2 separate regions of the Homo sapiens genome follow, and region 1 is linked to region 2. The links come from fine-mapping of genetic effects on gene expression. Tissue or cell type: whole blood. Region 2 holds a variant in brackets; the other region holds the start of a gene. All regions are shown on one strand. Distances are between the middles of the regions.

Region 1 (4,641 bases), 34 kb before region 2:
TCAAATTTGTCGTTTGCCTTTTTGGCAATGATAATTGATGTATCTAGATCCTGCATATTTATTCAAATTTGTCTACTCACCTTGCCTTTGGTTTCTTCCCATGTCTTAGTATCTAGGCCTTCCCCTCCGTATAATTCGTGTATGTTTTCTTCTTATCCTCTTGTGATTTGCTTGTTTGTAGTTCTCTGAGTTCTTATATTTATTTTGGTGATATTTAAACAAGTCCTTAGTTTTACTTTTTTCCCCCAACCTAATTTATTAAATAATTTAGCCGTTTATACTTGTCCCAACAAAGTGAAATGCCACATTTATCATACAGTGAATTTTTAAATATATTAAATTTTCCTAGACTTTCAGTTATTCCACTGATGCTTAATCCATCCATTCTTGTGTGAACACTACACTGTTTTAACTATAGTGTTGCAATATGCTTTAAGATTTGATAATACAGGTCTGTCCCCCCAGTTTTTTTGTTCGTTTGTTTGTTGAGACGGAGTTTCACTCTTGTTGCCCAAGCTGGAGTGCAGTGGCACGATCTCGGCTCACTGCAACCTCCGCCTCCCAGATGCAAGTGACTCTCCTGCCTCAGCCTACCAAGTAGCTGGGATTACAGGCGTGCACCACCACACTCGGCTAATTTTTTGTATTTTTAGTAGAAACAGGGTTTCACCATGTTAGCCAGTTTGGTCTCAAACTCCTGACCTCAGGTGATCTGCCTGCCCTTGGCCTCCCAAAGTGTTGGGATTACAGGCGTGAGCCACCGCGCCCCGCCATCCCCCCATTTTTAAAATATAAATTTCTTAGCTTTTCTCGCAGATATTCTCCCATTTGAAGGTTAGAAAACATGTTAAGTGCCCCCTCCTCCAATCTACCCACAACCATTAAAATTTTATTAAATAGAGTAATTTGGGTTAAGTTGGTGTTTGTGCCTCTATTCCTTCAAGCCTTCTTTATTATGTTTCAACCTTTGTAATGTCTTCATTAAGAGCCTGCACATTTATTCAGTTTATTTTTAGGTATCTTACACTTTTAAAATGGTTCGTTTGTTTTACATTAAAACTGCTCTTCAAGGTCCAATTGAAGCTTATCAAAGCTGATTTAATTTTTTTTTCCCAGGTGTGTCTTTATGTGCAGGAAAGCAGTCAGAAACTAAAGGCTCTTCAGTCACAGTTGTTTACTGAGTGTTCACTTAATACCTGGTGTAGTGATTATCCCTTTACACGCATTATCTCCTTTAATTTTCAGCAGGTTGGTTTAACTTTTATTTCCATTTTACACACGAGGCTCTGAGTTTGAGGAACTTGACAAAAATCACCCAGTTGGTAAGTGGATTTGATTCCAAATTTGTGAATCTCCAAAACTATCACAAAAATCAATCAGCCAAGAAGGATAGCCCAATGCTATGCCATCAGATGGGCTGACTCAAAAGGATGACTTTCCAAAAGCAAGCAATTGAATTAAAAAGACAATGTTTTCCATCCACCGGACCCGGCAAAAAAAGACTGGTTTTCCTCCAATGTGAGGCATAGTTCATATTCTGCAGGAGCACAATAATACCAGTGACTTAGGCTCCTTTAGAATTAGGGACTCGTGGGTGAACAAGGGTGGTTTTTCTGCAGCTTTCACTGGAATTGTCCGTTTGGAAATCTACCTCCCCATGGCAGGGCGGGTTTCAAAGAAGAGGAGAACAAACAAAAAACAAAAACAGGAAAAAAAAAAAAAGAGAGAGAGAAAGAAAAACAGGTGGAACCGACGTAAGGATGGCTAGAGCAGTGCGCGCGGAAGGCAGAACTTTCTGGGGGCGTCCTGTCCGCACGTTTCACGCGTGGTGCGCGCAGGTGGCGCCGCGGTCCCTTTGCTCCCTGCGCAAGCCGGAGGGGTGCCCAGAAGGCTACCACTAGCCTCAGCGAAGGTGAGAGAGAAGCTTTCCGCCGAAGCGAGGGAGGAGGGCGGGCAGGAAGCGGAGCCAGAGCTGGCAAAGAAAGGCTCCAATTCCCAGCCCCCCGCCCCGCGGGGCGCGGGGGCGCCGGCAGCGCATGCGCGAGGCCCGGCCCCCAATTCCCCCAGCGAGGGAGGGAGGCCCCCGGCGGCCGGGAGCCTGCGAGCCGCGGCGGGACCCGAGCGCACGCAGGGGCGCGGCGACGGCGGGGGCTAGTCGGGCTGCGGAGGCGGCCGTCGGGAGTGCGGAGCGCCTCGGACGAGGGTCCAACCGCCGGCAGGCACCAGAGGGCACGGCTGGCTCGGCACTGGGAGGGGCCCGGCGCTCGCAGCCCCCCACGCCCAGAGAGGATGCGTGAGTTTCGCCCCGGCTCGAGGGCAGGATGTGGGAGCAGGACAAAGGCTGGGCGGCGGGGGAGGAGTTGGGGACGGCGAGCCTGTGGCCGCCGCCAGAGCCCCAGCCTCGAGCGAGCTAGCGGAGTTGACAACTTTCTCTGCAACTTTTGCAAAAGGGAAGATAAAAATTCTGCAAGTTGTTGCACAGCTCCATATCGCCCCGTGTCCGGCGAGCAGAGGGGAGGGGGCACCGCAGCCTTCCGCGGACCAGAGGCGACCTCCAGCTCCTCTGAGCGGCGCAGGAGGGGGCGCCCGCCGGGGCCCGGGGCCAGGGGCGAGAGAGGATAGGGACACCGGGGGTCGGAGCCCGGGGTACGCTCTGGCCGCTGAAGTTGCCCGTGTCCACGCAGGGTGCGCCCTGAGAGCCGGGTAGCCTCGGATAGCGGCGCTGCGTACGCGATGATGGATGAGCCGTGGTGGGAAGGGCGCGTCGCCTCGGACGTCCACTGCACCCTGCGCGAGAAGGTCAGTCCCTCCCTGCCCTTGTCACTCTCAAGACTGGGTACAGTCTCCTTCGGTCTCGACTTCGTGTTCTCAGGTCGCCTGCGTGGGAACTCAGAACTCCCGGGTGCCTTTTTTTCCTCTTACCCTTTACCTTCTCCCGGAGTGTCTGAGCGGAATTGGGGGGCGGGGGTTAGAGACTGGAGATGGGAGAGATTGAAGTTGGTTTTTCTGATAAGGAGCTCAGAACTCTGGGCCAACTAGTCAGAGACAGCCACTGTACCTCTAAGGCAGTGTTTCCTATAGTATTGCCACCCTAGGTTATTTTAAACCGTACGTGAAGGGGTCTTTAAAAAATATTGTGTATTCATTCTAATGTGTAATTTAAGAATGTGTATGTATCTAGCAAGCTCTGCGTTTGCGATTTTCCATTTATTGTAATAATGATGTCGCAGTTTATTTTAAAACAAATTTAAGTAAAAGTAGTAACTCTATATAAAGATAAGTGGTAGTACAGGGAATACATGGTTATGGCCAAATACGTGTATCTATGTGTATATCTAGAATGGGACCGAATGAAATTTAAGGAACACCTGTATAATTGAAAGAGGCTACAAAACAGGGAGGCTGAGGGAAGAAAACAAAAACTCCCCTGCCGGTTTGCCTCCTGTGGCAGAAGGTGGGTGGGAGCAGCTGAAATGTGATCCCTGCACACCCCTCCCCTCAAGGAGAGAAGGGCTGAGGGGCATTGGGAAGGTGGAAGAGTCCAGGTGGGCTGGAGGCATGGCCTGTGTGTCTTGCCTCCAGTCCCTGGGCTGAGATTGGCAAGGGGTGGCTTGGGGAACAGGTGTGAAGTAGTGAATGGATTGGTTTCCTAGGGCTGCCATTACAAAGGACCACACAAACTGGAGGGCTTAAAGCAACAGAAATTTATTTCAGCTCTGGAAGCTGAAGATCCCAGATCAAGGTGTTAGCAGGGCCATGACTCTCAAAAGGCTCTAGAGAAGGATCTTTCCTTCTTCCTTCTTAAATTTGCTGGTGCTTGGTCATCCTTGGCATTCCTCGGCTTGTAGGTACATCATTCCAGTCTCTGCCTCCACTGTCACATGGTGCTATCTGTCTGTCTGTTTTCTCTTCTTACAAGGATACCCGATCATTGGAGTAGAACCCACCCTAATCCAATGTGATGTCATCATAATTTAATTACATCTGAAAAGACTCCATTTCCAAGTAAGGTCACATTCTGAAGTTCCAGATTAACATGACATTTGGGGGGACACTACTGCGCCCAATACAGGGAGGAAAAGGTCTTCCTAGTGCAGTACCTGAGCCCCCACACAGGTTTCACAGTCAGTGCATTTGCTCCGAGTGTCTGGAGGAGTTCTGCTTAAAGGGTCACCAGCTACTCAGTGTTTTTACCTCATTGAGTAGCTGTCTTCCTGTCCAATTAATGCCTTTTTCTTTTCTTTCTGTACCTGCTGACCTGTCTTTGTCCTGCGTTGCTTGGCAAGGCTGTGGCTTTCATCTGTTCCCTTGGTCTTCTTCCCAGAACAGAGTGGCCAACGTGTGGCACATTCTAGGCATCTGGACAAGAAGAAATCCAGGTCTTGTTGGTTCAGTTGAAAAGCAAGGAAAGTGGTAGGGGTATGGTCCTGGCCCTTTTCTGGAGGAGGTGGCTGAATGGAGCTAGTGAGGACTGCCGTGGAAATTGGGCTTCCTTGTTTATCATAGACTCAAGTGGTTGTCATTTCTGCTCATAGCTTAGGAGGAACGACTTCTACCTGATTTGCCCCTTTCTAGAGGGAAGGATTTCTAAGAGCAATAAATGCCATTTGTTTAGTTACCTGAGAATGCCCAACCTTTTAT
Region 2 (4,641 bases):
CCTCAACCTCCTGTCTCCTGCTTCCTGGTATGGGGGATATGAACGTGCTGGGAGGGGAACCCTAGCAACCACTGTTCATAAGGTGTTTTGAAATGTGACTGCTTGATTTGGACCTAAGCAGGACCCATTGTGTGGTCACCAGGCCTGGGCACAGCCCTCTTGGGGTTTGCACCTTCCAAACAGGCCTCACTAAAAACACAGCGTAGCTTTGACCATCTGTCTGTCTGCCTTGGTAGAGATTACTGTGTTAATTCGCTGCTACTCGGATGATCTCCTTAAAACACAGTTCTGCCATGCCACCCTTCCACTTAACATCATCCCATGGTTTACTGGCAGTCTTAGGTTAAAGACCAACCCTTGAGTTCCTGCCTCTTTGCCCTGTGCCTTTCTCCTCATCACTTCCTGGGTTCCAGCCACACTGGCCAAGCCCCCTCTTGTCATAGAGCTTTGCACATGCTGTTCCCTCTACCTGGATTGCTTCTCCCTCCCTCCCGCTGCCCACCTGGTTCTGGGTAAACATCACCGAGGCTCTAGATCCCTGTGAAAACCTTCCCCCACTGCCCTCAGCAGGTGAGGTCTCCCAAGTATGCAGACCCTCAGCGTCATGTGCTTTGAATGAACAACCACCACCCCCCATGGATAGCAAGTTTCAGGGATGGAAAGGAGCTTGGCACATAGTAAGACCTCAAAAATAATCTGTGTAATCAATGAAACTAATGGAGCTAATGGTTCCTTGAGAGCCAGGCCTCTATACTTCTATAGTTGCCCTAATGCAGAGGAATGGAATGCCCCAGAGGCCTCAGGCTCAAAGTGGCCAGGTACAATTAGGACATTTCTTTGACATCTGGTATTTTATCCTTGACAGTCAGATTTTACATTCTCCTCTGAGATATGTTTGTGTCCTATTTCATTATTCATTTCCCCTCCCTGCCCCTCCATCCTTCATCCTGCTTGGTGCTGCAGGACTATGGCACCCACTTTCTCCTGTAGCTTTGTCTGCTTTTGGCAGGCTTCCATAAACCCCATGGGCACGATCACCCAGTTCCGGAAGCACAGATTTAGAGTTTTCAGAATTCTGTCTCGTTTTCCACGCTGGCACCTTTTACCTGCTGTTGTTCGTGATCCCATTGGCTGCTTTAGGCTCATAGCCCCACATTTGGTGATTTTTCTCTACCTTTGGCCAACTGGATTCCCTTGTTACACATGCGAGCCAGTCTTGCTGGGTGTCCAGCCTGTCTCAGCACCCCAAATCAACGTGCAGCCCCCTTTCGTCTGCGGGGCTTGTGAAACATCTCCGGCTGTGGAGGGCACACTGGGCATCGTATTTCAAGCAGCACAGGAGAAATTTGCGCCACGGCCTTTGGCCTGCTGCTGTCTGTGATCTGTGGGCTGCATCGCGGCCCGCTGGGGGCAGGGGACTTATATTTCCATGGGGCCATGGAAGCTCTCCCCGAGTGTCTGTCTGGGGAGCTGGGATGTGAGGCACACACTGGAGACTCCTTTGTGCTGCTGCCACCTTGGCGGAGAGAGGGGACGTTTCAGACAGAGAGGCAGACGCCCCCACCCACGTGTCTGAGGGCAGCACAGCCTCGGGCAGCAGGAACAGATTTTTCAGGACACCTGCCATATGCTGCAGAGACCAGAGGGAAGAAAAGTTTCCATGACAGCCTGAAATCCTATTCTTCCCTCCTCCCCTCTCCCCAGGCCATTGTGGGCCACAAGGGGGATCCCCTTGCCTCGGGAAGTTTGGAGATCTGCTAATTTGGTACCAAATTATTCTGAGATAAGAAGAGCTGGGGTTCTTGCCCCCCCACCTGTCAATCTCAGGTTTTTAAATCTGCTTCCAGATAGACAGGAAGGCTGGGC[G/A]CGGTGGCTCACACCTATAATCCCAACACCTTGGGAGGCAGAGGCAGGTGGATCACCTGAGGTCAGGAGTTTGAGATCAGCCCAGCCAACATGATGAAACCTTGTCTCTCCTAAAAATACAAAAATATTAGCCAGGCCAGTCGGATAACCTGAGGTCAGAAGTTTGAGACCAGCCTGACTAACATGGAGAAACCCCATCTCTACTAAAAATACAAAATTAGCTGGGCATGGTGGTGCATGCCTGTAATCCCAGCTACTCAGGAAGCTGAGGCAGCAGAATCGCTTGAACCCGGGAGGCAGAGGTTGCAGTGAGCTGAGATCATGCCATTGCATTCCAGCCTGGGCAACAAGAACGAAACCCCATCTCAGAAAAAAAAAGCAATTAGCCAGGCGTGATGGGCGCCTGTAATCCCAGCTATTCAGGAGGCTGAGGCAGGAGAATTGCTTGAACCCAGGACAGGGAGGTTGCAGTGAGCCAAGATGGCGCCATTGCACTCCAGGCTGGGCAACAAGAGCAAAACTCCATCTCAAAAAAAAAAAAAAAAAACAGATAGACAGGAAGCAGAGATGGGATTTTCTCACCTACCTACAGCCCCTTCTGCCCCGTCCAACAGGGCTCAGCCAGGGACCCATGTCTGCGGGCCACAGGAGGAGGCAGAAGAAGCGAGAGCATTTCGTCATTCCACAGTGGACATGTGGCAAAGACACCCTCTCTCCCTCAGAGTTCATTGTTTGCGTCTCCTACCTTAACACAGGATAGAACTCTACCATAAATATAGTATAGAGATCACTAAACAGTAAATGAAGTTGAGCCTCCCTCTTCTTTAATCTTTCATCTTATACAGCACCCCTCCTGCAATGTCTTTTTGTTCTTCCTGTTGTTTAATTAAAAGGATAATTTGACAACGTGGAAATCCCACAACTTCCAGGTGAGTTGGCTTTGGCAGTGCCCCTGAATCATCGGCATCACAGCGGCTGTGGCTTCCTTCCTTACTGTTCTTTCTACATGCTGGACCCCATGCCAGGCACTTTACACACATCGCACGGATCCTCACGACCAGCCTATGCGGTCGTGCTGTCACCCGCCCTTTTTATAGGTTCAGAGAGGCCACAAAACTTGCCCAACTTGTAGTGTGGGGTTGTGTTTGTGGGTTTTTTGTTGTTGTTGTTTGTTTGTTTGTTTTTGTAAAGAAAAATACAACCAGGCACGGTGGCTCACACCTGTAATCCCAGCACTTTGGGAGGCTGAGGCAGGCAGATCCCTTGAGGCCAGCAGTTCAAGACCAGCCTGGCCAACATGGAGAAACCCTGTCTCTACTAAAAAGAAAAACCCACAAAAATTAGCTGGGTGTTGGTGGCTCATGCCTGTAGTCTCAGCTACATGGGAGGCTGAGGCTGGAGAATTGCTTGAGCCTGGGAAGCAGAGGTTACAGTGAGCTGAGATCATGCCACTGCACTCCAGCCTGGGTGACAGAACAAGACTCTGTCTCAAAAAAGAAAAAAAAAGAGAGATAAAATTCATGCCACAACATAAAATTCAGGATTTTAACCATTTTCAAGTGTACGGTTGAGTGGTGTTTAGCACCTTCACGCTCTCTCTACTTCCAGAACATTTTTATCACCTTAAAAGGAAACTTCGTACCCATTAAGCAGTCACTTGCCGTTTCTTCCTATCCCCCAGCTCTGGCAGCCACTAATCTGCTTTCTGTCTGTATGGATTCGTCTATTCTGGCTATTTTATATAAAGGGGATTATACAATATGTGACCATTTGTGTCTAGCATTGTTCTCTTCATACAGAATTTTGAAGGATCATCCATGTTGCAACATGTATCAGTACTTCATTTCTTTTTTTTTTCTTTTTCTTTTTTTTTTTTGAGACGGAGTTTCGCTCTTATCGCCCAGGCTGAAGTGCAGTGGCATGATCTCAGCTCATTGCAACCTCCACCTCCCAGGTTCAAGCAATTCTCCTGCTTCAGCGCCCCACCCCCCACCCACACCGCCCCAAGTAGCTGAGACTACAGGTATGTCCCACTATGCCTGGCTAATTTTGTATCCTTAGTAGAGGCAAGGTTTCACCATGTTGGCCAGGTTAGTCTCGAACTCCTGACCTCGGGTGATTCACCCGCCTCGGTCCCACAAAGTGCTGGGGTTACAGGCGTGAGCCACAGTGCCCAGCCTTCATTTCTTTTTATGACTGAATAATATTCCATTGTATATCCCACAGTGTGTTTATCCAGTCATCTGTTGATGGATGTTTAGGTTGTTTTCACCTTTTGGCTGTTGTGAACAGCGCTGCAGTGAATATTTGGGTACCAGTTATATTTGAACACTGGTTTCTAATTCTTTTGGGTATATGCCTATGGGTTGGATTATGGGTCATGTGGTAATTTTATGTTGGACTTTTTGAGACACCTTGGAGGTTTGCTTTTGCTTGGTGGTTGCTGCCTGGAGATGACTGCAGTATTGAGTCTTTGGCCCCAGGGCATGGACCAGCCTGAGGAGGGAGGGAGGGTTGGGGAGAAAGCCAGGAGGGCAAGAGGTGACCTTTTGCTAGGGTAGCTAGGCCTTAACTGTAAGACCTTATTATTTTGCACAAGAAGTGTGAGATACGTTTTTACTTTTAAAAACCTGAAAGCATTTAGCCAGGTGTGGTGGCACGTGCTTGTAGTCCCCGCTACTTGGGAGGCTGAGGTGGGAGGAACTCTTGAGCCCAGGAGGTGGAGGTTGAAGTGAGCTGAGATCTTGACACTGCACTCCAGCCTGGGCCACAGAG

Evidence for each region. PIP is the estimated chance that this variant, and not a neighbour inherited with it, causes the effect.
Region 1: CCNJL starts here. The variant in region 2 is fine-mapped to the expression of CCNJL in whole blood (TOPMed, PIP above 0.99).

What each region holds. Positions count from the first base shown.
Region 1 is chr5:160,310,016-160,314,656 of GRCh38, reverse strand. CCNJL (cyclin J like) reads left to right here and starts at 2,093. Exons shown (of 6, transcript NM_001308173.3): 1 at 2,093-2,293; 2 at 2,685-2,799. The coding sequence starts at 2,734. RefSeq lists silencers at 1,875-1,934, 2,045-2,164.
Region 2 is chr5:160,275,517-160,280,157 of GRCh38, reverse strand. The region is part of intron 3 of CCNJL (cyclin J like); the gene reads left to right. Among named protein-coding and RNA genes, the nearest start is that of CCNJL, 35 kb to the left of the region's middle. RefSeq lists an enhancer at 876-1,403. The variant G/A (reference allele first, on the strand shown) is at 1,867.